Homo sapiens: one gene and its partner. The protein of the gene in region 2 purifies or fractionates together with the protein of the main gene of each other region. This does not show direct contact. Each region holds a gene or a part of one and is shown on either strand. Other genes may lie near its edges.

What was found.
Region 1: the proteins of HECW1 (region 2) and CUEDC1 purify together in Homo sapiens (co-immunoprecipitation; one large-scale study listed by IntAct). This does not show direct contact.

Annotation. Positions count from the first base shown.
Region 1 is NC_000017.11:57,885,913-57,889,412, reverse strand, and holds part of CUEDC1 (CUE domain-containing protein 1), read left to right. Parts: intron 1-3,500.
Region 2 is NC_000007.14:43,448,147-43,451,646, reverse strand, and holds part of HECW1 (E3 ubiquitin-protein ligase HECW1), read right to left. Parts: intron 820-3,500; coding exon 718-819; intron 1-717. UniProt on the Homo sapiens protein: E3 ubiquitin-protein ligase that mediates ubiquitination and subsequent degradation of DVL1. Also targets the mutant SOD1 protein involved in familial amyotrophic lateral sclerosis (FALS).

The sequences.
Region 1 (3,500 bases), on a different chromosome or scaffold from region 2:
GGCCATGAGGATCAATATTTCCTTACAGAGGGCTGAAAGAATTCCAGGGATTGACATCCAGGTGCTGGGGAAGACCCCCCTAGAATCTCCCTACCCCATCCCCCCTGTGAGGGCAGCTTGGCCAATTTACCCACTGCTCCTGGCTCTTTACCAGCCTCCTGGGGCAATGATAACTCAAATGCAGCATAGCCACGTTCTAGGCAGTGTGCTGAGGATTATCTTATTTCATTCCCATTGAAACCCCCTAAGGGATACATCCAGATGAGGGCTTAGGGCCACGGAGAGGATGGGAGACTTGTCTGAGGTCCCACAGCTGGGGAGTGCGGAGGCCTTGTCTGAACTGGTGCGTGTTCCCTATAAGTGGCAAGAGTGCAAGGCTTCTGGAGCTTCTCAACACTCAGAGAGGCCCAGAACCCGAGGGAGCTGTCCAGAGGGCTGCTAATGGGGAAAATGTCGGTCTTGCCATCTTCTTTCTTCCTCCCCTGGGGGTGGCCCAGGTCATCTTTCTCCGAGGGATTGCCTTTGGCAGAGTGAGACCTGGGTCCCTCCATCTCTGTTAGTAAATTACTGGAGGGGCAGAGAGATGATGGCTTTACTCCAGAAGGCCTTAACACAAGTCACTGACCCCTGTGTGTGATGACACTAGGACAGCAGACAGTAGCCCAAGGCATCAGCTTCTGGGGCCTCCTGGCCCTGAGGTCTGTGTTAGAGGCTTGAGGGCAGGTCCCCAGAGCCCAGGACAAAGGCAGCTGTCAGGGTGGAGCCCAGGCGAAGCTGCATACTCTTCTGATGTGTGTGGGTTCGTGGAGATGTGGGTGTAGGGGTGTTGGGGTGTCTAAAGCCGGCTATGGGAAGCCATGTCATACTTGGCTACCTTCCTATGTTCCTTCTCACAGCAAAACTCTTGGACTGATCATTTGAAGTCACCCCTCTGTGTCTTCTTGTGAAATGGCTTGGGCGTCTCTGGGCTCTGACTTGCTCATCTGGGAAGAGATGGGGTAGAGGGAGTTGGATTATAAATCATGCTTCACTCAGTCAACAGAATGCTACTCAGGCACTAAAAATGATGGCGTAGCCCTACGTATTCTGACATGGGAAGATGGCCACAATATCTTATTATGTGGAAAAAACTAGTTGCATAGGATTTATGGTTTGATTACATTTTAGTAAAATAAATTCATTTATGGTGGTATATGCAAAGAAAAAATAATGCCGGGCGCAGTGGCTCACGCCTGTAATCCCAGCACTTTGGGAGGCTGAGGCAGGTGGATCACTTGAGGCCAGGAGGTTGAGACCAGCCTGGCCAACATGGTAAAACCCCATTTCCATTAAAAATACAAAAATTAGCACCAAGCGTGGTGGCACGTGCCTGTAGTCCCAGCTACTCAGGAGGCTGAGATGGGAGACTTGCTTGAACCTGGAAGGTGGAGGTTGCGGTGAGCCAAGATCACGCCACTGCACTCCGGCCTGGGCTACAGCCAGACTCTGTCTCAAAAAAAAAAAAAAAAAAAAAAGAGAAAAAGAAAAAGAAAAGAAAAAATCGAGATGTAGACACACTAAAGTGTGAACAGATTTTCTCAGGGGTTGATGTACTCACAAAAACATCTTGGCCAAGCATTGAAGCTCATGCCTGTAATCCCAGCACTTTGGGAGACCAAGGTGGGCAGATCACCTGACGTCAGGAGTTTGAGAACAGCCTGACCAACATGGCAAAACCCCATCTGTATTAAAAATACAAAAAAAAAAAAAAAAAAAAAGCCAGGCGTGGTGGCGTGTACCTGTAGTCCCAGCTACTCGAGAGGCTGAGGCAGGAGAACTGCTTGAACCTGGGAGGCAGAGGTTGCAGTGAACCAAGATCACAGCACTGTACTCCAGCCTGGGCGACAAAGTGAGACCGAAAAAAAAAAAAAAATTTCTGTATCAGCTGTTAAGATTGTGACTCCAAGTCCTAGAAAAGTGAAAACAAGTTTGCACCTGTTTCATCAAACTCAAGGATATTATTTGATGGAATTGTCCCTTAAAATAAAGCTGCCACTGTCAGAAGTTGGTGTTTAGGCGCATTCCATTCCCAGTGGTCTGTGCTAACAGAAATGCAACCTTGGCAGTGATTTACATGCCTGGGTTTGAGTGGGCCGGGTGGTTTTCTGTGGCAGATTAAGGTCCCTCATTGTGCTTGATTTTCAGTTCCACCTATACATGTTGTCAGGACACTGTGCTGACCCTGGGGGCTGAGGGACACACATTGGCTGGGGCAGGAGAACTGGGCTTGGTGGGGATAAGAACAGAATTTATGGCCGGGCACGGTGGCTCACGCCTGTAATCCCAGCACTTTGGGAGGCCGAGGCGGGCAGATCACGAGGTCAGGAGATCGAGACCATCCTGGCTAACATGGTGAAACCCTGTCTCTACTAAAAATACAAAAAAAAATTAGCCGGGTGTGGTGGCGGGCGCCTGTAGTCCCAGCTACTCGGGAGGCTGAGGCAGGAGAATGGTGTGAACCCGGGAAGCGGAGTTTGCAGTGAACCGAGATCGTGCCGCTGCACTCCAGCCTGGGTGACAGAGCGAGACTCCGTCTCAAAAAAAAAAAAAAAAAAACAACCAGAATTTATGATGTATATGGTTTCTCAAGACAACTTTGAGAAAAAACTTCTAGAATTTTTAAAAATATGTAAGGACACTGAGTGTTCCATAAGAACAAACGTGTCTGTGATATAAATAAAACATGTCGGCCTGACATTGGGGTAAGGAAAATGAACTCCAGGGGTTGACAATGGCCTTGCATCTCTCTTTTGGGCTGGTGCTTCTCAGGGGAATGGACTGAGTTTTAGGGCCTGACATGAGTTTTCCAAGAGTGGGAACTGGGCCTCCCCTATTAGCCCGAGGCTCTGCAAGGATGAAACCCTGTTTCCTCTCTCAGGCTGGAAGCTCCCGGTGACACTGGAGGGTCCCGCTTCTCATCACTGCTGTCCCCGGGGTTCGATGGAGCTCTGCACAAGATTCCTGCCCTGGTGGTGGGACCACGATGTTGGGGCAGTGATGTGGGAAGATGAGAACAGGGACTAGAGATCAGAGAGGCAGGACATCTTTAAAGAGCCCCTCCTGCCTCACTCAGGTCTTCAGGGGTCTTTGGCAGTATGTGTAATGGTAGAGACCAGTGACTTGAGGGCCATATGTCCCAGATTCAAATCCTGGCTCCTCCACTAACTCAGCGTCTATACCTCACTTTTCCCATCTGCAACATGGGCATACTAGCACATACCTTACAGTATTGTCATGAGTTGGCCCACATAGAGCACTTAGGATGGCACCTGGGTCGGAGGAATCCCTTGCTAACTGGTGGCTGTCCTGTGCTAGTAAAGAACTGTGGGGATTTCATTACTGAAGCCGGGGAGAAAGCATGAGGAAGAAGCAAGCCTCCCTTGCCCGTGGTAGGGGTCGCGGTTCCCTGCCCTCATTTCTTAGTAGCCCTTGGCCGCCACCCTGAGCTCATGTTTTGTTAG
Region 2 (3,500 bases):
ATCTAGGTCAAATCTTTCATTGAGCAGATGGAGACATTTAAACTTTATTTTTTAAATTTTACAAATGAGAAAACTAAGTCCCTGAGAGATTAAATGAATTTCCCAAGTTCAGATGACTAGTTAGATAATTATTAATTACCCACTACAGTTACCAGGAGAAACTGACATTGAATTCTATCTTAAAGATGATATTTTGCCTGGCAACCCCTAAGAACTGCAGAAGAAATTTGAAGCTATTCCCTATGGATGGAAGTTATAGTAAGGAAAGTACAAGTTCATGTGCCCAGATGGGTTGAAGTTGTTTTAACATATGGAGATGCTTGTGACGTAACAGATCCAATGGAGAACAATAGGATTATTCTATCTTGAACTGCAAATTTTAAATATAAAATGTAAAATTTGGGACTTAAAGGTCATGAACAGTTTGCAAAGACTAGTCAAGTCTAACAGAGAAATGCTCTCCATTTCAGAAGTTGAGAGGCACTGAAAACACTGTGTTATCTCTTCAAGATCACATGGTGAAACTATTAGTCAAAAAAACAAACTAAAAACCCCCAAAAAACCACCAGTTTTTAGAGCAGGTGTCATATTGGTCTTTGTTAACACTGTAAGGCACGGAGTCGGGAAAGACTTTAGATGTTTACACACAAATTCATACTGACCTGCTTAGACTTGATAGGAAGAGTTAAGACACAGATTTTAAAAACTAAAGCTTACTTGGTGGAAGAGGCTCATCGATTGTTGGGTAGTGATGATGTTCAGGCCTCAGGGAAGGAAGCTGGCTTACTGGCTGGGAATTATGGAGTATAGGACATTCACCTACGGACAAGATAGTCAATACATTCAGATTCATTCACTGCCGTGGCAACATCATCAAAAAAGCATGACTGTAAAACTAAGCACTACAAGAAACAACCCCAAAGAGTGGGAAATCCATTTGTGTGTGTGTGTCAGTTTGCTACATTCACAGTCATTCGTGAGGGGGGAAATATTTTTTTAAAAAAGAAGAAAATCAAAACACTTCATAACTAATGATCTGCGCCACACAGTCCAATATGTAGGATTTGAGTCTGATTCTGTAATGACCCGAATTTCCTGAATCAGAAAGTGGCACCAGAAAGGAACACAAGAGAAAATTAGCAGAGCCTGATTTTAGCCCAGTGGAGGAAATAGGCCTGTTTGAGGGAAATGCAGCGTTTTATAAGGTTCCACAAAAGTTCCTTGGGCTTATGCAAAATGACACCTCCTCACTTGGATAGGTTTCATCACAGGGCTGCCGAAAGGCTGTTTTTCAGATTTTTGAGGGGAATGAACTCTTAGATGGTACCAAGACAGGTCAAGGAGCTGGCGAGCCAAGAAAGTAAATTCCTGTAGTAGGAAAGCTGGAGGTTGGGGGGTTGGGGAGGGGAGCCAAGGGGCTGAGGGATCTCAGGACTGTCCAGATTATTTTGAGGAGAAATCAGACAAGCCAGGGTGCTCCGGAAAGAGGAAAGGACAAGAGACAAAGGAAGTAGATAAAAAGCAGAAAGACGGCGACAGGAAAGCTCAAAACACAGAAATGGGAAAGAAGGAGGAAGAAAGACAAACATGGAGAAAGTTTAGAAATAAACATTATATCCACAGGATGCATGCCTCAGATTATTAAAAGAAAACCTACAACAGACATAGCTTATACTGTTCTCAGTTCGGACTTATAATGAACTGAACGATGTTCTGAAGTGGTGTCCTCAGGCATGTAGAGCAGCCATGCAGAAGGCAGGCCTGCAGCACCAGCTGCTTGGGTCACATAATCAGAGGCCAGTGCTCTTGATCTTTGCAGAGTGAGAAGGGCCCGGGACAAAGGATGGCCCTTTTTTCAGATGGTTCCTCCTGCCTCACACCATGCTGGTTTTCTTGCAAAAGCCTTTAAGGGCCAGAGGGCAAAGGTCAGGCCTTTTCCTTCTTCTGTCCTCTGCTGATGCAAATAGCAAGTGTTCCATTATCCCTTGGGTCAAAAAGGAGAGAGACTGAAAAATGGTGGTCAAATGGTTGTAGGATCTCAAATGCTGAATATTTCCTAGAATATCCACACATGGAAAGGATGGTTATTTCTTCTCACTCTAGTTCTACGGAACTGATCAAAAATAAAAATAAATTAATTAGGAAGAAAGGTGGGTTTAATTTTGTGATTTAATTCCTAGAGCTCACTGGCAAACAGAAGGAGAGATATATTCAGGAACAAAGGGTCCTTTTAAATGTTAAATATAGAACATTATTTGTTGAGCAAATTCTGCTATGTTACTCAAATCCTCTGGGTCCTTGGAGATGCTAATGGAAAACAAGGAAGGTTCCCCTCATGCCGGCACCCAGTTCATTGTGGACAGACTGCTGTTCCAAAGATGGGCTCTGTGTTTAAGTGGATACCACACTCATGTTTGTTTGTATACATGTTTAGTGTCAGAAATTAAACAAAACCATGGTATAGTTGTTATGTCATCAGCTGCTGCATTTTTAACTTAGTTTCTTTAAAATCAACAATAGACTTACCTCTTGAAATTAATGCAACCAATCAGGTTAATTACTCCTCCAAGCTAGTGGAAATACAACATTGTTGACTGCCTGGGGTTAATGCAGCTGATCCCACCTGCTTGTGAACCCCAAGCAAATGCAATGATGTGACCAACATGTCTCAGCCGACTGAATGGATGGAGGCACTGAAGAAGCAAGCAGTTCTATTCTGCACAAGGACAGGGTTCCACATCATCACCCTTGCCTCAAACACAAAGCAAGTGTTGAAACCCGCCAGAACCTCCCAGAAAGAGATCTATTCCTCAGCTAAAAGCAAGCAACGTCGTTTTAAATTCCCTTCTATTTATAAATAATATAACCTAATTGTAGAGAAAGATAGGTTGCCTTGCATATTATTTGAAGCAAAGTGATTTATACCTAATAATGTGAAAATTTCCCTTGAATTATAAAGTACAGGAAATGCAAATTCAAAGGATTGTTTTAGATGCTTTATACAACATAATATAAACAGTTACCCTCACTGCTTGTCTGCCTGGAAGAACCCTCACTTGGTGGGAAGCAGAGTGCTTTTGTAGTATCATCTCATTAAATTTTCCCAACAACACTTTGAGGGAGATTCTGTAATTATACCCATTTTGCACATGAGGAAACTGAGGCACAGAACAGCTAGGTAACTTGGTGAGGAAGTGGGAGGAGTGAATATAAATCCAGGAGGCCTGACTCCAGGGCCTGAGCTCATAACAATGACATTATGTTACTCTTTTCATTTATCTGCAGAAGGTCTTTCAAGAACTATTTTAAATTAAACTTTTAAAAAGGAGGTATTTATAGAGGGAAATAAAGCAAAAAGTATGAAAAGAATACTAGCCTGTATAGTTGTCAGTTCAGACTTAGAACAGTGTTCCTCTATAAATTGTTGCAGCCTTATCTATGTGGGCACGTGGACAACAAATCCACCTGGGTTAATCTAATGCAGTTTTTTTTTCTCTCTC